Homo sapiens: one gene and its partners. The protein of the gene in region 4 interacts with the protein of the main gene of each other region in a biochemical or structural test. Each region holds a gene or a part of one and is shown on either strand. Other genes may lie near its edges.

Evidence for each region.
Region 1: the proteins of UBE2H (region 4) and UBR3 form a complex in vitro, tested with the Homo sapiens proteins (one study listed by BioGRID).
Region 2: the proteins of UBE2H (region 4) and MARCHF2 form a complex in vitro, tested with the Homo sapiens proteins (one study listed by BioGRID).
Region 3: of the proteins of UBE2H (region 4) and POLM, one has a biochemical effect on the other in vitro, tested with the Homo sapiens proteins (one study listed by BioGRID).

Annotation. Positions count from the first base shown.
Region 1 is NC_000002.12:169,823,074-169,830,508, forward strand, and holds the start of UBR3 (E3 ubiquitin-protein ligase UBR3), read left to right. Parts: upstream 1-4,380; 5' UTR 4,381-4,434; coding exon 4,435-4,979; intron 4,980-7,435. Other genes in the region: rRNA N(6)-adenosine-methyltransferase METTL5, read right to left, coding at 1,416-1,524. UniProt on the Homo sapiens protein: E3 ubiquitin-protein ligase which is a component of the N-end rule pathway. Does not bind to proteins bearing specific N-terminal residues that are destabilizing according to the N-end rule, leading to their ubiquitination and subsequent degradation.
Region 2 is NC_000019.10:8,409,321-8,416,371, forward strand, and holds the start of MARCHF2 (E3 ubiquitin-protein ligase MARCHF2), read left to right. Parts: upstream 1-3,984; 5' UTR 3,985-4,100; exon of another isoform or gene 4,101-4,474; intron 4,475-7,051. UniProt on the Homo sapiens protein: E3 ubiquitin-protein ligase that may mediate ubiquitination of TFRC and CD86, and promote their subsequent endocytosis and sorting to lysosomes via multivesicular bodies.
Region 3 is NC_000007.14:44,079,485-44,087,385, forward strand, and holds the start of POLM (DNA-directed DNA/RNA polymerase mu), read right to left. Parts: upstream 3,047-7,901; 5' UTR 2,955-3,046; coding exon 2,767-2,954; intron 1,433-2,766; coding exon 1,249-1,432; intron 476-1,248; coding exon 377-475; intron 258-376; coding exon 87-257; intron 1-86. UniProt on the Homo sapiens protein: Gap-filling polymerase involved in repair of DNA double-strand breaks by non-homologous end joining (NHEJ). Participates in immunoglobulin (Ig) light chain gene rearrangement in V(D)J recombination.
Region 4 is NC_000007.14:129,851,956-129,859,081, reverse strand, and holds part of UBE2H (ubiquitin-conjugating enzyme E2 H), read left to right. Parts: intron 1-140; coding exon 141-180; intron 181-1,518; coding exon 1,519-1,571; intron 1,572-7,126. UniProt on the Homo sapiens protein: Accepts ubiquitin from the E1 complex and catalyzes its covalent attachment to other proteins. E2 ubiquitin conjugating enzyme that transfers ubiquitin to MAEA, a core component of the CTLH E3 ubiquitin-protein ligase complex.

The DNA of each region.
Region 1 (7,435 bases), on a different chromosome or scaffold from region 4:
TCCAGGGCTCAAGCAATTCTCCTGCCTTAGTATCAGCAGCTGGGACTATAGGCACATACTACCACACTAGGCTAATTTTTTTTTTTTAAGAGCTGGGGTCTCACTGTATTGCCCAGGCTGATCTTGAACTCCTGGGCTCGTCATCCTCTTGCCTTGGCCTCCCAAAGTGCTGGGATTATAGGGGTGAGTCACTGTACTTGGCCAGATTGTTATTATTTTTTAAACTGGATTCCACTAAAAAAACCTACAGTCAGAAGACTAGTAAGTCATTATTTGAGAAAACTGGTCTTAACCTAGACACAGTAGTTTTGTGTGAATTTTTGGTTGGAATCATGACAGTATCTTGGAGTTAAGTGTAAATACACATGTATTCTCCTTGACTTTCATTGACAACTTAGAAACAACTATTTTGGAACTGGAAAAAACTCCTTGCAGGTACTCTCAGAAAATTAATTTTCCTAAGGAGCCAGCCTCAGTGGCTCATGCCTGTAATCTCAGCACTTCTTGAGGCCCCAGTGGGAAGATCGCTTCAGCCCAGGAGTCTGAGACCATCTTGGGCAACATAGCAAGACGCTGTCTCTACAAAAAATAAAAAATATTAGCCAGGCATGACGGTGCATGCCTGTAGTCCCAGCTACTCGGGAGGCTTAGGTAGGAGGATCACTTGAGTCCTGGAGGTCAAGGCTGCAGTTGCCGTGATCATGCCACTGCACTCCAGCCTGGGTGACAGAGTGAGACCCTTATCTCAAAAAATAATAATAATAAAATTTTTTTCCCCTAAGGTTTCCCAATGACTTCGGTAACATAAATATATGTTGTCCTGTATTCTCTCTTGTACTCCCAGTATCAATATCTGGCATGAAGCAACAATGCTAATGCTCAGAAAATCTGTTAAAATATGCATGCTCATCTTTACACAGCACATACTCTGATTTTGTTAAACTATCATTCCACTATCAACTCTGGTATTCATTTCTAGGGCAGAGTATATAGCACAAGAATCCTTGCGTAGGCAATTAGTAGCAATGGGAAACTGATCCTTATTTAGTAAATGTTTACTGAGCTCCTAAATAGTACCAGCGACTCTTCTGGGCACTGGGAATTCAAGTATGAACAAGTCTAACAAATTCCTTGTCCTCAGAGATTGTAATGTGAGAAGAGAAAAAAACACATTAAAAAGATGTCTGGCAGTGTTAAGGGATATGCAGAAAACTAGACAGTAAAATGATAGTGTGTATGTCTGTGGAGGGTGTGCCTTGAGCTGCAGTGTCAAGGAAGGCCTCTCTAACGCGACAGGTGATCTTAGGGCAGAATTTCTCTAGACATTCTCTGTATCCAAATAACTGTTCTATTTTTATCACAGAGTAGACTGGACTAACGCCGAAAGCCGGGGCGTGGTGAACCAGCCGCCCTACCTGCAATGTGCGGCCTGGTAGGATACTGTTCCAGAAGTAGCTTGGGCTTTTCAAATCCATCCACTTGTTGCAGGCGACTCTCTAGTTCCTTAAGCCTTACTTTCTTCATTTTGTTTTAAAGTATGGACTCGTAGGGTTTGAAGGCACAGGATCTGCGGAGAAATCTATTGAACTGGGATCTTGTTTCCTCCCTACCCCCAACCTTCTCCCTTTTTCAGCACCGCTGGCCGGACCCGAAGACGCGCCCTAAGGAGACGCCCGGACGCAGGGCACGGGGCGAGCCTCTGACCCACCTCCCGGCTAACCCAAGCCGCCCCAGGAGACGGCGGCGGCGCACTGCTGGAGCAGCCTCAGGATCCCTCGCGCCACGACCACGCACCTCTGGAGGCGACCCGCACCTCGGCCGGTGCCGGAAGCGCCAGGCCGCACGCGCGCACGCGTTCGCCGCCCAGCGGCCCGGCGCCGAGCTGCAGCGTTTATCTTGAGCCGGGGTTCCGCTGGCCACCTGGGGGCCTCATTGCCCCATCCCCTCCGCCTGCAAAGCCTGCGCTACTTGCTGACCCACCGCCAGTCCTCGCCGCCTGTCGCGTGCTCATTACCCTCTAGTTTGCCATGAGTACCTGCGGGCCCTCAAAGGATGGGGAAAGACAGAGTGAAAGGGATGCGGGAGAGAAAGTCACAGTCACTTTGTTGTATGGCCCAGAGTGACTCTTCTTGTTTCCCAAGTCTCGGCTCAAAAAGTAGCGATCTCCATTCACCTTTACCTCCTTCTCCATTCTCATGCCTTATTTTATTGTAACTTTGTTTCCCAATTTTTAGGTCATTTGTGTCACTTGCAATTCTCACAGGAGTGGTGATGTCAAAGAAACCCAAAGAAGAGATAGTGGAGAGGCAGGGCGCGGCGGCTCACGCCTGTAATCCCAGCACTTTGGGAGGCCGAGGTGGGTGGATCACGAGGTCAGGAGATTGAGACCATCCTGGCTAACACGGTGAAACCCTGTCCCTACTAAAATTACAAAAAAATTAGCCGGGCTTGGTGGCGGGCGCCTGTAGTCCCAGTTACTCGGGAGGCTGAGGCAGGAGAATGGCGTGAACCCGGAAGGCGGAGCTTGTAGTGAGCCGAGATCAAGCTACTGCACTCCAGCCTGGGAGACAGAGCGAGACTCCGTCTCAAAAAAAAAAAGACAGTGGAAATGAAAATAAAAGAATAGGTAGTGGTGTCAAATACTGGAAAGAGGTCGGGCTTCATAAAGTAGGAGCAGAAATTAAGTTGTAGCAGATTGTGGAGCGAATGGAAATTTAGGAAGAAGAAAGAGTAAATGTGAACAATTAAACGTGGCCCCGGAAGCGGTGGCTCACCCCTGTGATCCCAACATTTTGGGAGGCCGAGATGGGCGGATTGCTTGAGACGGGAGTTTGAGACCAGCCTGGGCAACATAAGGAGACCCTGTCTCTACTAAAAATACAAAAATTAGCTGGGTCTGATGACGCGAGCCTGTGGTCCCAGCTGCTCGGGTGGCTGGGGTGGGAAAATCGCTTGAGCCCGGGAGGCAAAGCTTCCAGTGATCTGAAATTGCGCCACTGCACTCCAGTCTGGTCGACAGTGAGACCCTGTCTCAAAAAAAAAAAAAAAAAAAAGAAAGAAGAAAAGAAAGAGAAAGAGAAAGGTGGCCTACGAAAAGAATGGTTGGATGCTTAGTAATGGGGGAAGCTTTATTATTTTTTCAATTATTTTTAAGACAGGAGGAGACAAATTCTGACAAGAATTGAGCTAATAGAAAGAGAGGGGTTAAAAATGCAAGAGGATATTGGATGGAGTTGGGATCCTGAGAAGGCAGGATCCAGTGGTTAAGTAAAAGGATTGCAGGATTGCGTTTAAGCCTGTGGATGGACACCTCTTTGCATTATTATAGGAAGAAGAAAAAGAGTGAATGGACGATGACGAAGTAGAGAAGTGTCTGAGGCTGCTACTTCTAGGAATAGCAGAATTCAAAGTTATCTGTTATGAGAATCAAATGAGTTAAAACATACAAAGTTTTAGCATGTAAAGTTAATACATAAAGTTTTATTTAGTTTATAATTTAGTGATTCGTAAAATTATTGAGCAAATTTAACTTATCACTGTTATATGATGATCGTGACATACTTAACTCATGTAGAAGACCAGGAATAACCTGTTTTAATTATGTTTCATTCATTTCAAACACAAGGTTATGGATTGGAAACACTCCTGTTCTTCTTTGTTGTTGTTGTTGTTGTTGTTGTTTTTAGAGACGGAGTCTCGCTTTGTCACCCAGGCTGGAGTGCAGTGGCGCGATCTCGGCTCACTACAACCCCCGCCTCCTGGGTTCAAGTGATTCTCCTGCCTCAGCCTCCGGAGTAGCTGGGATTACAGGCGTGCGCCACCATGCCCGGCTAATTTTTGTATTTTTAGTAGAGACAGGGTTTCACCATGTCAGCCAGGCTGATCTCAAACTCCTCACCTCAAGTAATCCGCCTGCCTCGGCCTCCCAAAGTGCTGGGATTACAGGCGTGAGCCACCGCGCCTGGCCTTCTGTTCTTCTTTGGATTGCTTTTCCTACAGTTTTTGTTTTCCTTAAGTTGGGGTTTCATTCTGTCGCCCGCTGGACTTTGATAACAGTAGGAATGTACATCTCAGACAAAATGCAGATGCCTAAAGTACATCTGAAAGATGATGTGAATAATTCCTGTAGTCTATGCAAATAAAGAAATAATTGCCCTTATTAAAGATTTCCTATAAGGTGAGTACTTTATTTCAGTAGCTCTTAACTTAGAAAGTTGGGAGCCTAGCTTGGTCCACAGGCGCCCAGGAGAGAGGGGCGGGAGGAAGGCTCTGCAGCCCGAGGGGGCGTGTGTAGGGGCGGGGCTGCGGGCGGAGGAGCGCGGACGCTCCGGGTATCGCGAGAGTTGGGCGGGCCGAGCAATCGCAGCAGTCTATTCCCTCACTCTCCCTGGAGGAGCCGCTGGCCCTGGACTCTCCAAATTCTGAGCTCTCATCATGGCGGCGGCGGCCGCGGCGGCCGTCGGGGGCCAGCAGCCGTCACAGCCCGAGCTGCCCGCGCCGGGGCTGGCCCTAGACAAGGCGGCCACCGCCGCGCACCTCAAGGCGGCCCTCAGCCGGCCGGACAACCGCGCAGGTGCTGAGGAGCTGCAGGCGCTGCTGGAGCGGGTGCTGAGCGCCGAGCGGCCGCTGGCCGCGGCTGCCGGCGGCGAGGACGCGGCGGCGGCCGGAGGCGGGGGCGGTCCGGGGGCGGCCGAGGAGGAGGCCCTGGAGTGGTGTAAGTGCCTTCTGGCGGGCGGCGGCGGCTACGACGAGTTCTGCGCGGCGGTGCGGGCCTACGATCCCGCGGCGCTCTGCGGCCTGGTCTGGACAGCCAACTTCGTGGCCTACCGCTGCCGGACGTGCGGCATCTCGCCCTGCATGTCGCTGTGCGCCGAGTGCTTCCACCAGGGCGACCACACCGGACACGACTTCAACATGTTCCGCAGCCAGGCCGGGGGCGCCTGCGACTGCGGGGACAGCAACGTGATGCGGGAGAGCGGGTGAGTGGAGCCCTCCCCGCGGGCGAGGCGACCCTGGGCCGGGGACGTCGCGGGAGGGCCTGGAGCGGAGCACTGGGAGCCCACTCTGAGCTGTCAAGGGGAGGGTGCGGGGGAGGGTGCAGCCACAGGGGGATGGAGGTGACTGAGCTGTCAGCGGTGGAAAGGGGGTGGGGAGGAGAAGGAGGGGAGAGGAGAGCGGAGAGCATGTTTAGGAAACCGGGCTGTGAATTTTGGGGAAGCCAGGGTGGGTAAATGATAGCGAGAAAAGAGCCAGTGTATGGGGTAGGAGGGGAGTGAGGGGAAATGATTTTTGGGGAAGCTCGTGTCGAGCTGTCAAGTGTGTACTTGTTGGGAAAGGCTGTAAAGCCTGGTTCTTGGGAAGAGACTTAGGTTGTGATTTGGATTGGCTGGGAGGGGATGTTATTGGGGACCGTATTGGCTCGCGGGATGATGAGAGCTGGGGAGGTGGTCTTGTACGTGCAGGGAAGGACGCTTGAGGAAAAGGTCTTCTGAACTGCCAGTGTGTCTGTCACTGTGAGAGAAGGAGCTCTTGAGGGTTGAGGGAGGAGGGAAGGGGAGGGGCCTGCATGAAAAGTGACTGTTGAGCTGTCAGTGGATTATTTGGTATGCTGGAATGACATTTAGAATTGGGCTACTGAGCAGTCAGTTACAGAATACCCTCCATACCAGGAGAACAAACAAAATACTGAGCGAACCAGGAATCAAGTGTTAGGTCTTCTCCAGTTAAGGGCACTTTGTTCACTCACTGATACGTGAACCTCTGTCTAAAAGGAGACAACAAATGCCCTTTTGACAGAAGCGATGCATCAGATGTTGGGACTTATGAGAAAAGACATTTCAGAGTTTGCAGTGAGTTACAGAGAGTTGGTACATGTAGGGTCGTGGCTTGGAACATGATGTCAATGTCAGGGACAGTCTGAGAAAAAAGGAAAAAGTGAAAGGGGCGATTTTGGATGGGCAGTAGTTGAAAGAATATTAGCAACTACAGGTTGCTATCAGTTATTAAACTTCTTCAATTTTCAGGTCTTAGGATTAATGACAGAGTACAATCTTTTTATAAATGGTCACCTTTTTCTTCGGAGTACTTGTAAGGTTACTGTTACTCCAAAATGTTTGTACCTACTATGTGCAAGCAAGGCTTCTTGGATATTAAAAATGAATGAAACATTGACCAACCCCTTACTCTACTTGCACTGGAGTAGAAAGTAATAAATTCCTTAAACAATAACTTGGTAGCTAGAGGAGGGAGATGAGGTTTCTGTGCAGAGGGAGTAAGAAAAAGTCTTCAGAAAGGAGGTATTTTGAATTTGCTAATAATAATAACAACATAATTGCAGCTAACATTTGAGTTTTTTTTTTTTTTTTTTGAGACGGAGTTTCTCTCTTGTTGCCCAAGCTGGAGTGCAATGGCGCGACCTCGGCTCACTGAAACCTCCGCCCCCTGGGTTCAAGCGATTCTCCTGCCTCAGCCTCCCAAGTAGCTGGGATTACAGTCATGCACTACCACGCCTGGCTAATTTTGTATTTTTTTAGTAGAGACAGGGTTTCTCCATGTCGGTCAGGCTAGTCCCGAACTCCCGACCTCAGGTGATCCGCCCGCGTCGGCCTCCCAAGTGCTGGGATTACAGGCGTGAGCCACCGCGCCCGGCCAACATTTGAGTTCTTGAACTGTATGTCTGATACTTTAAAAGTACTTTTTAAAATTTAATATTTGAATAGGTAAAATATATAGCTAAAAAGTACACACACACACACACACACACACACACACACACACACACGGAAGTTTTTCTCACATCTAGTCTTCTATCTGTCCAGTTCCTTCCCGCTTAGTTTCTCTTGGTGCAGAACAAGCAAAGATGTTTCCTAGTTTTTCAGTCTCTTTTTATGCAAAGGGTTACATACTTTCCACTGTTCTACATCTTGCATTTTTTGGTTATCTTAGATGTATTTTTCCTATTAAAAAATCAGTGTCGTCATTCTATTTTTTTAAAAAAACTGCTGCATAGTGTTCCATGTTTTCAATTTGCCATTCTTTAATTTCTTTTTTTATTTTTATTTTTATTTTTTGTGCGTGTGAATTTGCCATTCTTGATTTAATGTCTCTTCATGGGCATTTGGCTTTCCAGTATAAAATTAAAAACGTGGTGTATCTGTCTTTTCCCCACCTGGTCAAGAGAGTCAGTGGGATAAATTCTCAAAAGTGTGATTTCCAAATTGCCCTCCCTAAGGCTTAGTACTAATTACTCTGTGAGACTGCCTGTTTTCCAACAGCCTCATCAACAGAGTAGTAGTAAAATTTTGGACTTTTATCTATTTGGTTAAAAGTGGCCAAATTCTAGCTGTTTTATGTGATTTAACTTATTTATTCTTTGACTCTGAGATTATTACTTTTATTATTCTCATTGTACAGAAGAGGAAAGTAGGGCAGAGTT
Region 2 (7,051 bases), on a different chromosome or scaffold from region 4:
ATAAATGAAATTATCTGCCAGGCACAGTGGCTCACGCCTGTAATCCTACCACTTTGTGAGGCCGAGGCAGGAAGATCCTTTGAGCCCAGGAGCTCAAAACTAGCTTGGGCCTCATAGCAAGCCCCGTCTCTATTATTTAAAAATTAAGGCCAGGCACAGTGGCTCACGTCTTTAATCCCAGCACTTTGGGAGGCCTAGGCAGGTGGATCACGAGGTCAGGAGTTTGAGACCAGCCTGGCCAATACGGTGAAACTCCGTCTCTACTAAAAATACAAAAAAACTAGCTGGGCATGGTGGCGTGCACCTGTATTCCCAGCTACTTAGGAGGCGGAGGCAGGAGAATCGCTTGAACCCAGGAGACAGAGGTTGCAGTAAGCCAAGATTGCACCACTGCACTCTAGCCTGGGCAATAGAGGGAGACTCCATCTCAAAATAAAATAAAATAAAAAATTGGCTGCGCGCGGTGGCTCAGGCCTATAATCCCAGCACGTTGGGAGGCCGAGGCGGGCAGATCACGAGGTCAGGAGATCGAGACCATCCTGGCTAACATGGTGAAACCCCGTCTCTACTAAAAAATACAAAAAAATCAGCCGGGTGGGGCGGCGGGCGCCTGTAGTCCCAGCTACTCGGGAGGCTGAGGCAGGAGAATAGCGTGAACCCGGCAGGCGGAGGTTGCAGTGAGCCGAGATCACGCCACTGCACTCCAGCTGGGCGACAGAGCGAGACTCCGTCTCTAAATAAATAAATAAATAAATAAATAAATAAATAAATAAATAAAATATCATTCGCCACTAAAATGAACCAGGGCTCTTCGGAAAAATGGTTGAGTCCAGGCCTGGGGCAGGCAAAAGACAAGACAAGTCAGCCTGGAAGAGTTTGTTGAGCCAGTTAGTAAGGAAATGCCCCAAGATGGAATTAGAAAATCACCATTTGGGGCCGGGCGCGGCGGCTCACGCCTGTTATCCCAGCACTTTGGGAGGCCAAGGAGGGCGGATCACCAGGTCAGGAGATCGAGACCATCCTGGCTAACACGGTGAAATCCCATCTCTACTAAAAAAAAATACAAAAAATTAGCCGGGCGTGGTGGCGGGCGCCTGTAGTCCCAGCTACTCGGGGGGCTGAGGCAGGAGAATGGCGTGAACCCCGGAGGCGGAGCTTACAGTGAGCCGAGATCGCGCCACTGCCCTCCAGCCTGGGCGACAGAGCAACGCTCCATCTCAAAAAAGAAAATCACCATTTGGTTGCTATTATGGTAATAACTGACTCAGGCAAGGGTCATCAATTGATATTAAGCTCTTGGAAACGGCGTGTGTTGAGGAACAGGCTATTTAATTACTTTCGAAGTATCTCCCCAGAAAGCACTTATTAACAAAGTGTAAAGTCAGGTGCCGTGGCTCATGCCTGAGGTTAGGAATTTAAGACTAGCCTGGCCAACATGGCGAAACCCCATCTCTACTAAAAATACACAAATTAGCTGGACGTGGTGGTGCGGGCCTGTAATCACAACTACTCAGGAGGCTGAGGCAGGAAAATCACTTGAACCGGTGGCGGAGGTTGCAGTGAGCAGAGAGGGCGCCACTGCACTCCAGTCTGGGCCACAGAATGAGACTCCATCGCCAAAAAAGAAAAAAAAAATTGGTCGGGCGTGGTGGCTCCTGCCTGTAATCCCAGCACTTTGGGAGGCGGAAGTGGGCAGATCACTTGAAGTCAGGCGTTTAAGACCAGCCTGACCAACATAGTGAAACCTGCCTCTACTAAAAACACAAAAATTAGCTGGGCGTGGTGGTGCGGGCCTGTAATCCCAGCTACTCGGGAGGTGAGCCAGGAGAATCCCTTGAACCTGGGAGGCAGAGGTTGCAGTGAGCTGAGACCACACCATTGCACTCCAGCCTGGGTGACAGAGTGAGACTCTGTCTCAAAAAAAAAAAAAAAAAATTAAAATTAAATAAAATATTAAAAACAACAACAACAACAAAACACCACAGTGTAACATACTAACCTCACACTGGAGAAACTGGCAGACACCATTTGAACCAAGTTAGCACAATCGATAGTGGACAAAATCAGCATTGTATGCATCCTGAAAACACAACGTCACATCTGTTTCCTGCCACAAATGCAAAATCATGAGAAAGTATTAGACAAATAGCAATGGAAGGACTTCCTGCAAAATTACTAGCCTGGAATTTTTGAAAAATATTGATGTCATGGAGAGAAGGTAAGATTGATAAAATGTTCCAGAAAGAGAGACTAAATTAGAGTCGTTAACAACAAAATACAATGCTTGATCCTGGGATGGATTTGGGATTTTTTGTTTTTTGACACAGGATCTTGCTCTGTTGCCCAGGCTGGAATGCAGTGGTGAGGTAATGGCTCACTGCAGCCCAGAACTCCTGGGCTCAATTGATCCTCTCACTTCAGCCTCCCAAGTAGCTGGGACCACAGGAGGATGCCACCACAACTGGCTAATATTTTTATTTTATTTTGTAGAGATGGGGTCTCACTGTGCTGCCCAGACTGATCTCAGACTCCTAGACCCAAGAGACCTTCCTGCCTTGGGCTCCCAAAGAGCTGGGATTGCAGACATGACTCACTGTGCCTGGCCTGGACTTTGGATTTTTAAAGGACTTTATTGGAAACTTTTCTTTTCTTTTTTTTGAGACAGAGTCTGGCTGTGTTGCCCAGGTTAGAGTGCAGTGGCAAGATCTCCGCTCACTGCAACCTCCACCTTGCAGATTCAAGCAATTCTCCTGCCTCAGCCTCCTGAGTAGCTGGAATTACAGGTGCCCACAACAAAACCCAGCTAATTATTTGTATTTTTAGTACAGACAGGGTTTCACCATGTTGGCCGGGCTGGTCTCGAACTCCTGACCTCAAATGATCCAAGTGCTGGGATTACAGGCATGAGTCACTGCACCTGGCCTTTGAATGGGCTCTGGGAATTACATGATAATATTAGATGAACATTAATTTTCTGATTTTGAAGGTTATACTGTGATTATGTGCAAAAGTGTGCTTATACTAAGTGAACATATAGTGCAGTATTTTTTTAAAAATTGATCTGTCTTAGAGATGGGGGTGGGTGAGTTTACTATGTTGCCCAGACTGGCCTCGAACTCCTGGGCTCAAGTGATCCTCTTGCCTCAGCCTCCAGAGCAGCTGGGACTACAGGCCTGGGCCACCACACTTGGCTAACTTTTATTTTATTTTATTTTATTATTTATTTATTTATGTATTTATTTGAGACAGAGTCTCACTCTGTCACCCAGGCTGGAGTGCAGTGGCGCGATGTCGGCTCACTGCAAGCTCTGCCTCCCGGGTTCACGCCATTCCTCTGCCTCAGCCTCCCGAGTAGCTGGGACTACAGGCGCCCGCCACCACGCCCGGCTAATTTTTTTGTATTTTTAGTAGAGACGGGGTTTCACCGTGTTAGCCAGGATGGTCTCGATCTCCTGACCTCGTGATCCGCCCGCCTCGGCTTCCCAAAGTGCTAGGATTACAGGCGTGAGCCACCGCGCCCATCCTTTTAAATTTTTTGTAGAGACGGGAACTCACCATGTTGCCCAGGCTGGTCCCCAACATCTGGCCTCAAGCGATCCTTCCGTCTCGGCCTCCCAAAGTGCTCCGATTACAGGCATGAGCCACTGCACCCGGCCAGTCTCAAAAAAAAAAAAGTTAAATTCTGCAGAGGTTTTATTTATTAGAGGACGCTGGCCGTCTGCAGGTGGCGCAGCAGCACCCCCTCGTGCCTGGGGCGGGGCTGGGGCGGGGCCAGTGCTGGGGCGGAGCCGGAGCTGGGGGCGGAGCCAAGACGCGGCAGGGGCGGAGCCAGCAGCTGCGGCACAGCGGGGCCTGTGCGGCCCAAGTCGTCCCTGTGGCCTCCGGCCCCGCCTCTTAGGGCGGGACGTGCAAGGCGATTGGCGAATGCAGGCGAGAGGCGGTCGCTATTGGTCCGCGGCGCTGTCGGCTCGGCGGGCGGTGCCCGGACGCAGGTGCCGGCCGGAGCGGAGCTAGTGGCGCCGACGGGCCGGGCCGGGCCGGGACCGGGGCCGAGGCGAACCGAGGGGCCTGTGCGGCCGCCCGGCCCGGCCGCGGATCAGGTAGGCACGGGCCTGCAGGTAGGGCCGGAGGACGCCAGTCCGCGGGCCGGCCCCGGGTTCGAGGCCGGAGCTCGGCACCCGGGCGGGACGGCTGGGCTCGATCCCTTGGCCACAGCCTTCTCGGGGACGCGGGGACCTCAGTTCCCGTGTCAAGGCCGGTGGGAGGTCTCCGGGGTCCGGCACACATAGGCGCCTCTCCGAGCCTCGGTTTCCCCACCTGTGAAACTGGGTCATCCCATTGCCAACCTGATGGGGCTTCTGGGAGGATTCAGGAGGTGGCTGGTGCAGAAAACGCCTGACACACAGTAGGCAACTGCTAAGTGGCCAATGCCCTTCCCCAACCTCCTTCTCAGAGCGGCTCTGCCTGCAAAATAGTAAGTTATAATATAATGACCCAGCCACTTTGCACAAAGATGCTGAAACAGGATGCCCTGTGCTATGTGGGTGCTCAAAACGGGGTAGTCAAATGGGCATGTTGAGCTCATTCAGTTCTTTTGAAACCATACTGAGTAGGTGGAAGCAGTAGAAATGTCCCCTGTTATACAGTTGAGAGAGTCCAGGCTCAAAGAGGTTAAGTGTCTTGCCCAGGGCCACACAGCACATAAGGAGTAGAGCTGGGATTGGAACCTTGCTTCTCATGCAGGGAGGAATGAATGCAATAACAACCTCCACATTTACCCTAAAAAATATTAATAGAGCTTTTATTGAGCACTTACTGTGTGTGCCAGGGTTGACTGTGTGACCTCTCATCAACAACTCTGTAAGCTGATGATAGTAATTATAATAAGAGCTAATAGTTATTAACTTCTTAATTTTTTACTAATTTATGAACTACATATCATTATGACTCCCCGTCTTTTTTTTTTTTAGACAGAGTCTCTCTCTCTTGCCCAGGCTGGAATGCAGTGGCACGATCTGAGCTCATTGCAACCTCTGCCTCCCAGATTCAAGCGATTCCTACCTCACCCTGGTCAAGTAGTTGGGATTACAGGCCCCCGCCACCGTGCCTGGCCAATTTTTGTCTTTTTAGCAGAAACGGGGTTTCACCATGTTGACCAGGCTGGTCTCGAACTCCTGGCCTCAAGTGATCCACCTTCCTTGAACTCCCAAAGTGCACAAAGTGCTGGGATTACAGGCGTGAGCCACTGCGCCCGGCCTGTAACACTCATTTTAGAGATGATAATACTGAGGCTGAGAGAGTAAAACAGCTGCCTGAGACCACAATGTAGGGAGTTTTAGGGCCCTCTGATTCCTCTGCCCTCTGTTTCCTACCTTCAGGAAAAGGAGCCTGGGCAGGTATGGAAAAGACTGGGGGGCCTCAGTGCCACCCTAAACAAGCCTAGCTAAGGGTGAGCTTTACTGGATGAATTCAGCCTGGAGGCTCCTTCTCAGGAGACCCCTCCACGGACAGAGTCCACCAGCTCCATCATTAGAATGAGGCCCAGAGAAGCAAAGTGACTTGAACCAGGACACCCAGCATCGGTGGCATAGCCAGGAGGGCCAGGAGTTAAAGAACCCAGGTCTCTTGAGGTCCAGAACCACTCCCTGGACTGTTTTAAGTTCAAATTCTGACACCACCCCTTCCTAGCTATATGACCTTGGGAAAGTAGGTGCCTCTCTCCGAGCTTCAGCCTCTTTCCCCATCATAGGGTGTAATTATTGGTTTGTTGTGAAGACTCAATGAGATCTATCTCCAGGCCGGGCGTGGTGGCTCATGCCTGTAATCCCAACACTTTGAGAGGCCAAGGCGGGCAGATCACTAGGCCAGGAGTTCAGGACCAGCCTGGGCAACTTGGCAAAACACCATTTCTACAAAAAAATACAAAAATTAGCTGGATGTGGTGGTGTGCAGAGCTACTCAGGAGGCTGAGGTGGGAGGATCACCTGAACCTGGGGGCGGTGGAAGCTTCAGTGAGCTGTGATTACTACACTGCCCTCCAGCCTTTTGGGTGACAGATTGAGACCCTGCCTCAAAAGAAAAAAAAAAAAAAACAGACAAAAGAAAGAAAAGAAATAGGCCAGGCGCGGTGACTCATGCCTGTAATCCCAGCACTTTGGGAAGCCAAGGCGGGTGGATCACCTGAGATAAGGAGTTTGAGACCATCCTGGCCAACATGGTGAAACCCCGTCTCTACTAAAAATACAAATAATTAGCCAGCTGTGGGTGGAGGGCACCGGTAATCCCAGCTACTCTGGTGGTTGAGGCAGGAGAATCGCTTGAACCTGGGAGGCGGAGGTTGCAGAGAACCGAGGTGGTGCCATTGCTCTCCACCCTGGGCAACAAGAGTGAAACTCCATCTCAAAAAAAAAAAAACAAAAAAAACAAAAAAAAAAACCAGACAAAAGAAAGAAGAGAAATAAATCTCCTGGGCACTGGGCCAAGTTTGCTGGAGCCATCAGATCACTCTCCCATTTCAGCAGCCTCAGAGCTGAGTCCGACTTGCAGTCACCCTCTCTTTGTGTCCAGCCTCAAGTTTGGCCTCTTCCAGGCCTGGGCCTCTGTGGTTTGAGTGGACCTCTAGCCTCTAAATATCTCTGATGCCCACCACAGGGGCTGGCCGACCAGGATCGGAGGGTCAAGAGATGTGGCTCTCTCACGCTGTTCTTAAACGGAGTGAGGATTGAGAAATGACTACAACATGGCCAGGCACAGTGGCTCATGCCTGTAATCCCAGCACTTTAGGAGGCTGAGGTGGGCGGATCACGAGGTCAGGAGTTCGAGACTGGCCTGGCCAACATGGTGAAACCCTGTCTCTACTAAAAATACAAAAATTAGCCGGGTATGGTGGTGGGTGCCTGTAATCCCAGCTACTCGGGAGGCTGACGCAGGAGAATCCCTTGAACCCAGGAGGTGGAGGTTGCAGTGAGCTGAGATCGGCCACTGTACTCCAGCCTGGGCGACAGAGCGAGACTCTGTCTCAAAAAAAAAAAAAAAAAAAAAATGACTGCAG
Region 3 (7,901 bases), about 86 Mb from region 4:
CACCCCCACAGCACCCTCTGCTGTCTCACCAGGCCCCAAGGCCTCCCCACCCACCCACTCACCCTGCTAGGATGGTAAGCACCTACCTGGACAACCCTAGAGGAGTGTTCTCCAAAGTGGGGAAGCCCCTGCAGCTGGCTCAGGGTTGTGACAGGGCTGGGAAGGGCCTTGAGCACCGAGGCTGCTCTGCAGAAGGTGAGGAGGCGGCCCTCACTGCCTTCAAAGCCTGCTGCCTCGGCCAGTATCTCCAGAGCCTCCTGCAGGGAGGGGCCCTAGGTAAGGGGCAGGGTGGGCAGCTCCAATCCCCCACCTACCACCCATCTGTACCCTTGTCCCCAACCCCCAGGGCTGGCCAAGGCTCATAGAAGCGGCTTACGGAGAGGCCAGTGTTGTGGTGTGTGAGGGGCGTAGGGCGCTGGCAGGCATAGGCAGGCATCCATGCTGGGCTCAGAGGCCCCTTCCTTGGCCCAGCCACCTGGGGATGGGCAATAAACAGGTCACTGTGAGGCTGCAGGGCTGGCAGGAGAGCCAGGCCGTACTCAGGCTTTGTTTCTCCTGGGGTGTCCAACTCGGGCCCTCTGGAGCTCATGGGACAGAGGTGGGCAACAAAACACCAGCGGCATGAGGCTGAGGGAGGCACCGCCCTGCAGAACAGGCTGTGCATGGGGCTCCTCATGCCAGGGTAGCAGCAATCACATCTGCCAGCCCTGTGGGCACTTCTCCTGCTGCTGCACATGATGCATGTACTCCATCACCCCAATCCTCACAACCAAGCGGGCTGGGGATGCTGAGGCCTTGGAGGCTAGGGGCTTGCCCCACAACCATGGCTCACAGGCTGGGCCAGGATTTGAAGGCAGGCAACCTGGCCCCAAGCCCACACCTGTCAGAGGCCGGGAGCCTTATAGCATCCAGAGGACAGGCTCCTGCTAACCCATGGGTCATCCCGCTCGGAGTTGCTGTGTCATCTACTTGGTGAGGAAGAAAGGCCTGAAGAAGGTAAAAATAAGCAGACCCCAGAATTTGCATCAGTGGTGAGAACAGAAGCTGAGATGGCCTGGCCCCCTCAGCCCCTTCTGTGGTTCCTCTACTGGTTTATAGGGGGCCCCTGGTGATCTGGGTAGAGTCTTCACTGCCCACCTCCTCTGAAGGACATTGAGGCATTGCTGCCATGTCACCTGTCCCAGCTGAGCAATGGCCTACACTGGGGCTTTCACTGTAGCCCCCACTTTAGTCTTCCACCCAGCTCACCTCCAGGCGGTGCCGGCACTCCACAGGTACAGGCTGCCCAGCTCCCAGGCTCTCTGTTAACCAGCTTATGTCCAGCAGAGCTGGGGGGGTGCAACCCGGGGGAGCAGCTGCCATCCTGCGCTCCTGCCAGCTGACGGCCTCCTCTGCTGAGGTCTCTTCCATCACAACATGTGTCGCTTCGGAGCTGGTGGAGGGAGTTGGGAGAGAAGGAGGAGGGTGAGGCCCAGAGCCCGTCCTGGTTGGCTCCAAGCCTTCACTCTTGCCGTCCCTTCTGCATGGTAAGTGACCATTCATCCTGCAAACGTCACCTCCTCCAGAAAGCCTTCCCAGCCCCTCCTCCTGGTAGATGAACACCTCCACCACTCAGCCCTCAGAACCGTAGTTCTCTGCCCTGGCTATGTTCACAAGCACAGCCCAGTCTTGTGCTCTCTCCCTCCCTCTTCACCTCAAAGAAAGGAATTCCTTAGGGTCAGGACCAGGTGGTCTTCATCTAAGAGCAAGGGTTTCAGCAGAGATGGAGGAGCCTGTTTGGGTCTGAACCCCAGCTCTGCCTGCCACATACTTGTTTGGCTCTTGGGCAAGCCACGTGTCTATACTTTGATTTCCTCTTCTGTAAAGCAGAGATAACATATCCACCCTGTGGGGTTGTTGTACAAAGATAGTGCCTTGTACACTCTAAGCTGCTATCATCCTCTCCTGAGTGGGTCTGGCGCACTACTGATCCCTGGTAATGTTAAAAAATCAAACACAACTGTGGGGGAATACTAGCCCCAGGTTCGTTTGCTCTCTCAACCTCCAAACTAGGGGGCACCCCCAGCTCCCTTACTCTGGGTGTTGTCTCTGTAGCCGCCATTTTTTCTTCTCTTGGTTCCCTTCCTACAAGAGCTTCTCAGTCGTGTTATTTACTCAGGCCTGAGGACAGAGGAGCCTGCGGGCTCCGGGCCTCTTGAGAAGTCAGTCTCGCTCACAGGTGGGACATAGCCCAGGCAGAAGGGCTGTTAGCAAATACGACTTTTTTTTTTTTTTTTTTTGAGACAGAGTCTCACTCTGTCGCCCAGGCTGGAGTGCAGTGGCGCGATCTCGGCTCACTGCAAGCTCCGCCTCCCAGGTTCATGCCATTCTCCTGCCTCAGCCTCCCGAGTAGCTGGGACTACAGGTGCCCGCCACCACCTCCGGTTAATTTTTTGTATTTTTAGTAGAGACGGGGTTTCACCGTGTTAGCCAGGATGGTCTCGATCTCCTGACCTCGTGATCTGCCCGCCTCGGCCTCCCAAAGTGCTGGGATTACAGGCGTGAGCCACCGCGCCCGGCCTACTGCTTATTAATTACCCCTGACCTCTGGTTTTGATTCTCGCAGTGATCCTTTAAAACACGCCTCGCCCTAATTAATAGCACCCTTTACAGAAGAGGAGATGGAGGCTCAGGGAAAGGTCACAAGACCACGAAGTGCCACTGCAAACTTAGAATCCAAAACCAGAAGTGCCATGGAAGCCCTCGCCGCGCCGCGCCGCCCCGCACCTGCAGGCGTCAAGGACGCGGAAGCCTTTGGAGCGCGCCAGGCCTGTGAGGAAGGCCCGGCGGCTGCGACCCATGCGAGGCTCGACCAGGTAGATGGCGACTCCCGGGAAGCGCGTCGAGGGCGGCGTGGAGGAAGCGGCATCGCCGCTAGGGGACCCGACCCGCGCTCGCCGCCGTTTGGGGAGCATTGGGACGACAGCCTCCAGCAGCGCGGAGCGAACGCAGAGGGAAACTCCGAGCGAGACGGAAGGAAGCCCCAGTGAGGCTGACGGAAGCGGGTGGGCGGGCGGGCGGCCGCCGGCTGGAAGAGGACGTGGCCCCGCCCTATGCAAATGAGGCCTCTCCGTGGGGCTCGCTACTTGGGCCAGTCGGAGCGCTGGGGAGGGTCCGGGCTCCTACAGGATTGGGTGTCCCGGCCGCTCCGGAAGACCCGCCTCCATGCAAATAACGGCAGAGGACCCGCCTTTTATTTAAATTAATGTCTCGGAAAGCGCTGTTCGGCCCCATTGGCCTCCGGGAGGAGAGGCTGGGCTGGAGCGGGGCGGGGAGGGTGTTGGAGGGGGTGGAGGAGGCGGGGTCAAGGGGGCGTCCCCGGCTAGGGAGGGTGAACTGGGACCTAGGCCCGGGCGGAGCGGGGTGGGCTGTGTCCTTGGCGCCGGGGCTGGGTCTAGGGTTGAGCCGGCGGCTCGGGGCGGACGCGTGCGGGCTGTGCCCGATCCCTCTGCGCTCGGGACTGTCACACGGAAGCCGGCGGGCGCAGGACCGACACGCGGGTTTCCAATGCGCTGGTGGGGCGGTCGCTTCAAACACGCGGGAAGATTTTTCAGTCGAATGGCATTAGGACAACTGGCAGGCCATTTGGAAAAATAGAAGTTGGTGCCCTTCCTCATTCCTTAACACCAAAATAAATTCCAGATGGGTCAAACATTTCCATCTAAAAAGGAAACCAACAACGTACTGGAAAAAAGTCGGTGAATGTTTTTATGATCTAAATATCACAATAAACTTGGAAACACTAAAGGAAAAGAATGATAAACTGGACTACAGACAAATTTTAAATCTGATTAAAAATTAGAGTCAGAAGATAAACTGGGATAAAGTGTGAGATATTTTGGAATTAAGATTATCTCATGATAATCTTATCAAATTGTCCATAGATAAAAAGACAATAATTTAATAGAAAAATTAGCAAAAAAACTCACGTAGATGATTCTTAGAAGAAATCCTGGTCAATAAATTTATGACCAGAGTGCCCAACCTGTCCAGTCGTTACAGAATACCTAAATGAGAATATCTTCAGTTGTGGGTTTATCAAACATTCAAAAAAATTGACCACACATGTTGAAGGTGCGAGGTAATTGGCAATCCATAGGAAGGACTGTGGAAGCCAATGTGGCAACCACATCCAACAAAATGAAAACAAAATAATACACATTGATCCAGCAATTCCTTTCCCAAGATTGGGATTGCATTGAATCTATAGATCAAGCTGGGGAAATCTGATGTCTTGATAATATCAAGTCTTCTGTCTATCTTATTTAGATATACTCCATTTGTAACCTCTGTTACGGTAGTGTGGCACTGCTCAGCCTAACTGATGGGACACCAGATCAGATGCAACCCCCTTCCACATGCCTCTCCTCATCACTGCCCCATCGTCCTCAGTCTTGAGCCCCAGACTCCTTGAGCACCTATCCTTTTTCTTTGGCTCCTCTCTGACATCTTTAGTGGGCTGGCTCTTCCCCATCTCTGCACTCAGAGCACAGGGCTGAGGGGAGTGGGGGAGATGGCTCAGCCCAGGCATCCTCTTGACCTCCTACACCATCTCCCAGCCTCCTAATTCATCTACCTCTTCAGGGCTGTAGAGCTTCCTGGGCCTCAGGACCCACATACAGAAGCCAGGAGGCCTGCGTATGGTCCCTCTCTCCCCATCCTCCCCTTGTGCCAGCAGGGATGGGCAGGCTCTAAGGGTCTTCGTCTGTGGATCTGGCTCCTACCCTTCTCAAGGAGGAGGCTCTGCCCAAATATCCCCTGAGCAGATCCCTCTAGCTGTCTAAAACCATTTCTGTTCCTTTTAATGTCCTCTGTCTGGCCAGAGCACCTGGGCTCCCCTTGGAGCCCTTGTTCTCTCCTGGGAAGGCAGAGGCAGTTTTTAAGACTATGAGACCTGAATACTTAAAACACTGGGCAACTGTGCAAAAATGTTTGTGCAAGGAATCTCATCCAAATGACAGTGGAAGAAACTGCCTAGCTTAGAAATCAGCCAGGCCCTCTGAGTGGTTGCTGCAAAGTGTCTGCTAGGACAACATGGGGCTGAAGGATTCATGAAGATTGGCCAGTGGGGGCAAGAAGGGGTGAGGAGGTGGGGAGAGAGAGGGACTTGCCTGCTCTGCAGGACGAAGATGTGCCCTATACCCAGGGAGAGGTGGCCTGCCGTGGAGGTGAAACCACCTTTGCAGAATTGTAAGTCATGAGAGAAATCTAACATGACTGCCTCCCTCTTGCATCTAACCTCACAGACTAAATTGGTTTTCTTATTTCTTTTTTTTTCTTCTTCTTCTTGTAGTGCAGAGGCCAACATAACTATGAGAGGAATTTAGTTCATAGTTAAAGGCAAGAAAAACTGACCCCCTCCTTGTTTGGAGATTGAAACCACATTCATAAGACAAGGTTAGAATTGTGGTGGGGCCTGAACTTTGCTAAAGAATGGGCATAAACAGCGACCTGCCGTTTCTCACTTGGCTTGCTTTTCTATAATGCTTACTGCCCTGGAGTCACATAGCCGGAAATCTCAAGATTTCTAACTTCTCCAGCTGCTCATATAGAGGCCGGGCACAGTGGCTCACACCTGTAATTCCAGCACTTTCGGAGGCCAAGGCGGGTGGATCACTGGAGGTCAGGAGTTCGAGACCAGCCTGGCCAACATGGTGAAACTCTATCTCCCTAAAAATACAAAAAAATTAGCTGGGAGTGGTGACACATGCCTGTAATCCCAGCTACTCAGGAGGCTGAGGCAGGAGAATTGCTTGAAGCTGGGAGGTGGAGTTTGCAGTGAGCTGAGATCATGCCACTGCACTCCAGCCTGGGAGACAGAGCAAGACTCCGTCTCAAAAAAAAAAAAAAAAAATCACTATTATGAAACCTAAAGAACTTTGAGATATTTTCTAGATTTAGAATTTTAGCAGACCAAGAGACACTACCTGGACCTGTGACCCACACCAAGAAACTGACTCAGCTGCTTGAAGATAGTTTTGATACCTCTGTGATTTCATCCACTGCCAATCAGTTGTCTCAGCTCCCTAGTCCCCTGCTTGCTGAAGCACCCTTAAAAACACTAGCCTCTGAATTCTGGGGGAGGTGGTTTTGAGAATTATCTTTCATCCTCCTTGCTTGTCTGGCCCTGCAATTACAAAACTTTCTCTGCTGCAACAGTGCCCCCACTGGAGAACATGGTGAGGGGGTGTCCCTGCTGGAGGATGGTTGGGGAGGGGGTCCCTGCTTGAGGATGTGGGAGGTATACCTGCTGGAGGAGGGGTGAGGGAGGGTGTCCCACTGGAAGATGGGGGTGGGGCGCAGTGGGGAGCCATACTAGGGCCAAGAATATCCCCAGGACTGGAGGTAGCTTTTGCAGCTTAAACAAGAGGCATAGTCGCGAGGGCAGGTTAGGACTTGGGTGTGTCCAAGAGGCACTTGGAAGGAGTTGCCCTTCCCAGAGGGTGGCCCTTGAGCTATGGAAAAGATCCCACTGAAAGGAGATGGTTAGATTATCTCCTGCACATTGGAAATTGTCTTTGAGTTTCCATCTTCAATGGGCCTGGTTTCCCTGTACTTGTCTGTGGTGGTCACTGTGGGAAGGCAGTGAGGAGTGGGTCTGGGGAGGGAGAGGGACTGCCACAGGGGCAGCAGTGGCCACCCCCCACAGGTCCAGACCATCCCCTCTCCAGAGTACAGTGGAGCAGGGTACACCTAAGAGCTCCAAATAATACTTAGGCCCAGGCCCCTCCCCAAATAATCCAGTTTAATTGGTCTGGATATGGCTTGGGCATTGGCATTTTATTTATTATTATTAATTTTTTAGAGACAAGGTCTCACTCTGTCACCGAGGCTGGAGTGCAGTGGCACAATCACTCTTGGCTCTTGTGCTCAAGTGGTACTTCTACCTCAGATTCCTGAGTGGCTGGGACTACAGGCATGTGCCCCCACGCCTGGCTAATTTTTTTAAGTTATTTTTTGTAGAGATGGGGGCTCTCACTATGTTGTCCAGGCTAGTCTCAAACTCCTGGCCTCAAGCAGTCCTCCCACCTGAGTCTCCCAAAGCGCTGGGATTACTGGCATGAGCCACCAAACCCGGCCGACATTGGCATTTTTAAAGTTCCCCAGTGACTGATGTGTGGCCAAGGTTGAGATTCACTGCTCTAGAGGGAGGGGACCCTTCAGGGAGATGGAGACCCTGACAAGAAGCTTACGCGTGTAAAAGTGAGAGCTGAGAACCACCTGAATATCCAGTGACCAAGAGCTGGTGGAATAAATGTTGCTGTGTTCATACTGTGGAATATTATGCAGCCATTAAAAATGATTCTGTGAAGTTTTACTCTTAATCACCCAAAACTGTAAACACTCCAGATGTTCTTGACCCAGGGAACAGCTTCACACACTGGTGTGTGCATCCCATGGAATGCTAAGGAACATTGAGATGAAGGGAACCGGTAATGCAGCAGCTTGGGTGAGTCTTCAGTGCCTCATGCTAAGTGGCAGGAGACACATATGCTCTGATCCCATTTATATGACAACTCGGAAAAGGCAAAACTATAGGATAGAAAACAGACCAGTGATGGGCAAGGCTGGGAGCTGGGGTCGACTACAAAGAGTTTGAAGGCATTTGGGGGTGATGGAATGTCCTCTATCTTGACTGTGGTGGGAGTTACAGGTTACAAGACTGTGTTTGTCAAATTCATAGAATTATGAACTGAAAAGGGTGAATTTTACAGTATGGCAACTATACCGCACTCAGCCTGACTTTTAAAAACTGGTGCTGGCTGGGCGCAGTGGCTCACGCCTATAATCCCAGTACTTTGGGAGGCCGGGGTGGCAGATCAGGTGAGGTCATGAGTTCAAGACCAGCCTGGCCAACATGG
Region 4 (7,126 bases):
AGTAATGAAAGATCTAAGGTTGAAAGTAGTGATTTATAAGTATTATCACCTTTTCCCAATACTGAAATTGTTTCCAGTACTGAAATACTTTTATTGTTCTCTGGATACTTTTTGCTGCTAATTAACATCTCTTTTTACAGGATTCATGAATAAAATTTTCCATCCCAACATTGATGAAGCGTAAGTAACTATTTTAAAATGTTTCAATTTTAGCAGCAACTGCTCATGATTAGTGTTTCTCTGTGTTATAAAAAGCCTCGGTTATCTTTTTGGACCTTATCAGGAGGTAGGACTGTATGAATGGTCATGTAAATGATAGAATCCAAAGGATATGAGGTTCTCAATCACTTAGTTCACATTCTGCTGTTGTACCACTTATTTTTTTCCATTGTCGTGACTGGGTCCTTCATTTTTCTTGTTACCCAGCAAACAGTAGTAATATTCCACATCTCACTTCTCTTTTTGTAGACACAGTTCAGAGATCTGTTTTCAGCCTACAGATAGACTATTTTCAGATCTTATAATATTTTCTCAATTCTTGATAGATAGTAAGGCAAAATGACTATAGTTTCATTTCAGTTAATGAATCTTATTTATCCCCTTCTTTCCTTCTAATATTTTATTAATGATACTTTAAAATATTCCAGCATATCCTGTTTTATACTTCTAGTGCTGTTTAGAATATATTATTGTTTGGGATGCAATTTTAATTTGTCATGGCACTAAGTTTTACTGTCTCTCACAAACATACCTAACAGGTTTTTCTGCACTCTGTGTGAGTAGGTTGTATATATACATACATCATGCCCCTTAGTCCTTTAATATTAATATTTTATTGTATCAGTTATCCTAACAAGGATATTCTCTTATCTATCCACAGTATATAGTTGTCAGATTCAGGAATTTAACGTTAATGCAATACTTATTTAATCTACTGCCATATTCCAGTAACTTACTTTTTAGCACTTTTTTCTTTCAATAAAGGATCCAGTCTAGAATCACACATTACATTTAGTTGTCATGTTTCTTTAAACTGCTTTAATCAGGATTAGTTCCTCAGCCTGCCTTTATCTTTTATAAAATTCACTTTTTAAAATAACATAGACCAGTTATTTTATAGATTGTTCCTCAATTTGTGTTTGTCTGATGTTTCCTGATCATTAGATTCAGGGCATGAACACACTTAAGGCCAGAAAACTACAAAGTAAGATGGTGTCCTTCTTGGGGTATCACATTCAGAGACACACAAGGTCTGTCTGCCCCTTGTGTTCTCAGCACCTGGTTCAGGTGTTGTCTGGTTTCTCCATTGCATAGTTACTATTTTCCCCTTTCAGTCTGTAAGGTGACACTTCAAGACCTGGTACTATTCTGTTCCTCATCATACTTTTCCCCAATTGGGATTCTTTTTTTCACAGATCTATTAGAAGTATTTCTCTTGATAAGTAAAAATTAGTTGCCAGATACATGCAACTAACTTTCTAATTTTTAAAAACATGCCATTCTTTCCATCTGTTTCAGGTCAGGAACTGTGTGTCTAGATGTAATTAATCAAACTTGGACAGCTCTCTATGGTGAGTTTGGCCATGGAATATTTTTTGGAGATGTTGAGACATTGCCTAAAAAAATGTTGTTTGGCTTTTCTTTTCTGGTTTAAGATGTTTTGTTGGTAATGGGAAGGGATTTTTGAGGGACCGACTGGGAAAGTTTGATCAGTGGAAAAAATGTTTTCTCTTAAGTACAAATATATCAGTTTAGCTGTGGAAGTTTAAAATGATTTTTTGAGATTCCAAACTTAAGGTATAGTGATACATGTGCACACACATGAGTACATGCGCACACACATGAATACATGTGCAAACATTTTATATGTATGTATTAGCACATAATATATACATATTTTGGTTTTGGAAAAAACTAAAACTACTTAGGAATGTCCCTCTGAAATGAGAGAGCAATGATATAGTAAGAGGTTTTAGGGGATCATCTTTTCAAAGACCAAAACCTCCTTATGAAGGAAGAGTAATTTAGCCTTACCTTCAGTGCTGAAATTGACACCCCATCTCTTACAGGGAATCAACAAATGAATTGCCCAGCTCTGCAAAATGCTATGCTGAATATCCCAGAGAGTTATAAAGAGCATCAGGCCTTTCCTCCTTATCACCTGGTTGGGGAGCTGAAAATATGTTAAAATACAGTCATCTCTTGGTATCTGCAGGGGATCAGTTCCCAGACCACCTGCAGATACCAAAATTCATGCTTACTCAAGTCCCACAGTCATCCCTGTGAAACCCACTGACATGGAGGGCTAGCTGTATTTATTGAAAACCACATGTGAATGGACCCATGCAGTTCAAACTGTGTGTGGACCCATGTTGTTCAAGGGTCAGTTGTGTATTTGAAGTTAATTAGGGATACAACAAATAAATCTGTTTTTCCCTCCACATGTCCAAATCTCAGGCTTCATAGAGTCTACCTACTCCAGTGCTCCTACCCCGTATACTTCCGCTGATTCTCCAGCTGGAAGTAATCTCTGGATACCATTACATTTTATAGCTCCTTTTTTATGGTCCACTTTTACTTTCTACTGTGTATTTGTTGTTTATGCCTATTTTTTTGTGCTACTAGATTATTTCCTATCTTAAGGGCTATCGGGTGTGTGTCTGATTCATCTGTAAGGCCCAGGACTCTTATCACAGTGCCCTTCACCAGTATGGGTTGAAAGAATGAATGGTACAGGTAACCATTGCTGAGAGGCACAAGAAAAGAAGGGAAAGCTCAGTTGAGGCTGAGCTTAACCAGGGATGGCTGCTTCTTGTTGAACTTGTACGACCTTTTAGTGGTCTGAGGTAGGTAAGACTTCTTAGTCCAGCCACAATCTGCAAGTTACTTTTGCCAGATATCCTTGAACTAGATTGGTAAATGAGAATCACAGAGAAAGGTTGGTCACCAGCAGAACACAGTTAATCCCTGCCTCCACCTGATTGTGCCGTTCAAAAATTATTTTCTCTACCTGGGATATTCCCCCCTGATCTTTGTGTGGTTAGCACCTTCTTCACTCATCTCACATATTACTTCCTCAGAGCAGTTTCCTTTCCCAGCTACTCCATCTGAAATCACACCCCTCCATAGCACAGCACCCAGTTGTATATATATTTTTTAATTTTAAAATTATTTTTTAATACATAGAAACAGAGTTGCACTCTGTTGCCCAGGCTGGAATGCAGTGGTGCGATAATAGCTCACTGCAGCCTTGAGCTCCTAGGCTCGAACAGTCCTCCCATCTCAGCCTCCCCAGTAGCTGGGACTATAGGTGCATACTACCATGCCTGGCTAGTACCCCGTTTTCAATAAGCTTCTAAAACTGGTATTTGTATATTATTTATCTTATCCCCTTGGATTGTAAGCACCATGAGTGAGGACTTTGTCTTGTTCTCGTCTCTCTCTCTCTATACACACGCACACGCACACGTGACTGTAACAGTGCCTGGTGCACAATAAGGGTTCGACTATTTGTTGTCTTAATGAGTGAATTAATCATGTCCAGAACTGTTTAACAAGAGAGTTTTAGGGGAGATGATGGCATATAGTTGAGGCAACAAGAAAGAACATACACTCCGAGCTTGATTAAATGGATTCCTTTTAAGATGGTTTTTTTGGTAAAAATGTCTCATGGCAGGCTGCCTGGAATATCTGATGTAATGATGTGTTTTCTTAAACTACATTCACATCTTAAAAATGTACATATCAAAATACTGCAATCTGGTTCCAATTACAATGAAGTAAATTGATGTTTAGTTTTGCTAAAGCTTTTACCATTGACCAGAAAAGCTTTGTGAAAGATGTTTGCTGACTGTCAAGTACTTCATGTCTCAGAACAGGTTTTTTAAAAAAATAACAGTTTCACTGAATTATAATTCACAGACATGCAAATCACCCATTTAAAGTGTGTAATTCAGTAGTTTTTAATACATTCAGTTATATGCAGCCATCACCACAGTCAATTTTAGAACATTTTCATCACCTCAAAAATAAATGTGTACCCTTTAACTATTCGCCCTAGGCAACCACGAATCTGCTTTTTGTTTCTGTGGATTTGTCTTTTCTGGACACTTCTTAGAAACGTAATTATATAATATGTGGTCTTTTGTGACTGTTTTTTTTTTCACTTTGCATAATGTTTTCAAGGTTGATCCGTGTTGCATGTATCGGAAGTTCTTATGGCTGAATAATATTTCATTGTGTAGATAAACCACATTATTTGTCAGATAATAGACATTTGGGTTATTGCTGTCTTTTGGCTATTATGAGTGTTATAAATATTTGTGCACAAGTATTTGTGTAGACATGTTTGCATTTCTCTTGGGTATATACCTAGGAGTGAAATTGCTGGATAATATGTTTAACTATTTGAGGACTGATAGACTACTTTGTAAAGTGGCCAACATGAGTAAGTTTTCATCACATTTATAAAATGTTAGTGTACTTACATTAGCTTGCAAAGCATTTAATAAGCAGCAAGAGTTAAACCACGTTGGTCCAAGTGAACTGAAAGCAGACTTCTGTGTTACATGTGTATGAGTTACTGAACATGTTCCATAATACAGGAGTGTGAGCACACTAACAGGTAAGTGCAGGAAAACAAGAAGAAATATTTTCAGAGTATAGTCAAAAGTACACTGAGCATGGGAGAATTGTTTTGACATTTTGCTCAAAACTATTTCTGAAGAAAATTCAACATTTCTTTCACGGAAAGTTTTAGGAACAGGTAAATACAATTATATAAAGTACTGGTAGAATATGTTCGTTCAGATGACCTTGAAGTGTTTTTTCAGACTTATCTGAACTTGAGATCTGAACTGAATTTTTATTAGAAACTGTTAAAGCCTCTGGCATTGAAGGTTAGTTCATAATTGGTGAGTTCTGAATCACTTCATTTCCTGCAGTGGTTCCTGAGAGAATCTTAGTTCAAAGGACTGCCCCCGCCAACCCCTGCCCCGCCAAAAAAAAAAAAAAAAAAAAAACTAACACTAAATAACTAATAGGAGAAAGTTGGCGTGTCAACATAAATATTCAACTGAAAAGCAAAAGGCTAAGCCTGGCACCTAAAACTTGTTTCAACACTTTCCTCTGCTGTAGATTCGATGAGGGAGCAGGGAGTGGATTGTGAAATTTCCTGCCATTTACCTTGCCCCAGGACATGTACTGTTCTGTGGGTATACATATTTGTAGCGTAACAACAATTCACAGTTGAAATTTCAGATGTATGTTAATCATAGCCTGATATTAAACAACATTCATGTTAGCAGTAAATTTAGTCCTCTGTCCCCTCACACCCTTCCCCGCCATTGATTTCTGGTAAGCCAGTTGACTCATTGCTTCTGTTCTTATCCTGTTTTCTCTTTGCCAAGTGTATGTGCAATTTGTTTATTCAGAGTTCAAAATTGGTATAATTGTGGTTTACTCACCCAGTAATTTTTAATTTTGTATTATTTAACCTTACAAGAGAGCTAATTATAGTGAGGAATCGGATTAATTTTGTAAGATGCTTGCCATCAGTATGAAGTTATCAAGTATGAAGTTATCTATTGTTATTGTTATGACATTAAACAGAAAGTAGCAGATGACCAAAGTGATTTTGGCTTCCTGCATGATAGCATCTTTTTTTTTGCATCCCTTCCTGCTCTTCCAGACAGCAGTGACAGAAGCTCTGAGAAACATAAAATGTAGCCAAGGGGATCTGGATTTCCATTTCAAAACAAATTAATTTTAAGGACTGATAGGAGAGTTCATTAAGCCACAGGTAGCTTTTTAAGCACTCTTCTATTTTCCAGTTTTCCTTTTTTTCTCCAAAATATATTTTATCTGTAGTTGGCTTATCACCCTGCACTCCTGGGGGCCCAGGTGCCTTCACTGCGATACAGCTTTAATCTCTCTCTCATCCCACCCTTCTGGACCAGGCATGCTTGATCCCTGCAAATGTGTTTCTCTCTCCAGCTTTCATTTTACTCATTCTTTGACTGCCTTCGTAAATTATTTATATGATGGATTAAGTTGTAGGCTGGGCACGGTGGCTCATGCCTGTAATCCCAGCACTTTGGGAGGACAAGGCAGGCGGATCACCTTAGGTCGGGAGTTCGAGACCAGCCATAACCAACATGGAGAAACCCCATCTTTATTAAAAATACAAAATTAGCCAGGCGTGGTGGCGCATACCTGTAATTCCAGCTACTCGGACAGCTGAGGCAGGAGAATTGCTTGAACCCGGGAGGCGGAGGTTGCAGTGAGCCCAGATTGCACCATTGCACTCCAGCCTGGGCAATAAGAGCAAAACTCCATCTCAAAAAAACAAACAAAAAAAAAAGTTGTGGAGAAGTGAGGTGGAAGACAATTTTCTTATGAAATTGGGCAGTTTACATTTTCACTCTTAGGGTTGCTAGCCAGTGGACTAGATACTTCTACTCTTATTTTGCTGGAGAGAAAAATCAACATTTGGGAAAAGTCTTCCCCTAGAGTTATCTGGGGAGTTAGTAACAGGCAAATAAAATTGACTACAACAGAAGGAATACTTCAAGGACTTTGAGATTAGGCAAGAGATACAAATTTTTTTTTTTTTTTGAGACGGAGTCTCGCTCTGTCGCCCAGGCTGGAGTGCAGTGGCACGATCTCAGTTCACTGCGAGCTCCGCCTCCCGGGTTCACGCCATTCTCCTGCCTCAGCCTCCCGAGTAGCTGGGACTACAGGCACCTAAAATTTATTTTACCAGGCATTTAGAAATTTAAAATACAAATTTAACACTTATCCCATCCCCTTTTCAGTTAGATAGTCTGTGAATCTTCCCAAATAATTCAGATTTTGGCAGAAGGTATATCTTAAAATAATGCTTTATGCTGGATTAGTGCATGCTGTTTCCTAAACATTTTAGTGTAACTACACAGATAAGAAATACATGTATGTGTCTTCATGGATGATTAATTGGCCAACTACTATTTGAACAGCTTGAGAACTTCAGTATTGATCTGTCCATGTTGAATCACAAACGTCATCCTGCCTTTGGAACAGCTGGATGTCATTATTTGTAGATAGAGGCCAAGTAGAGCAATTCTGTCCAGTACTATTGGGATAATGT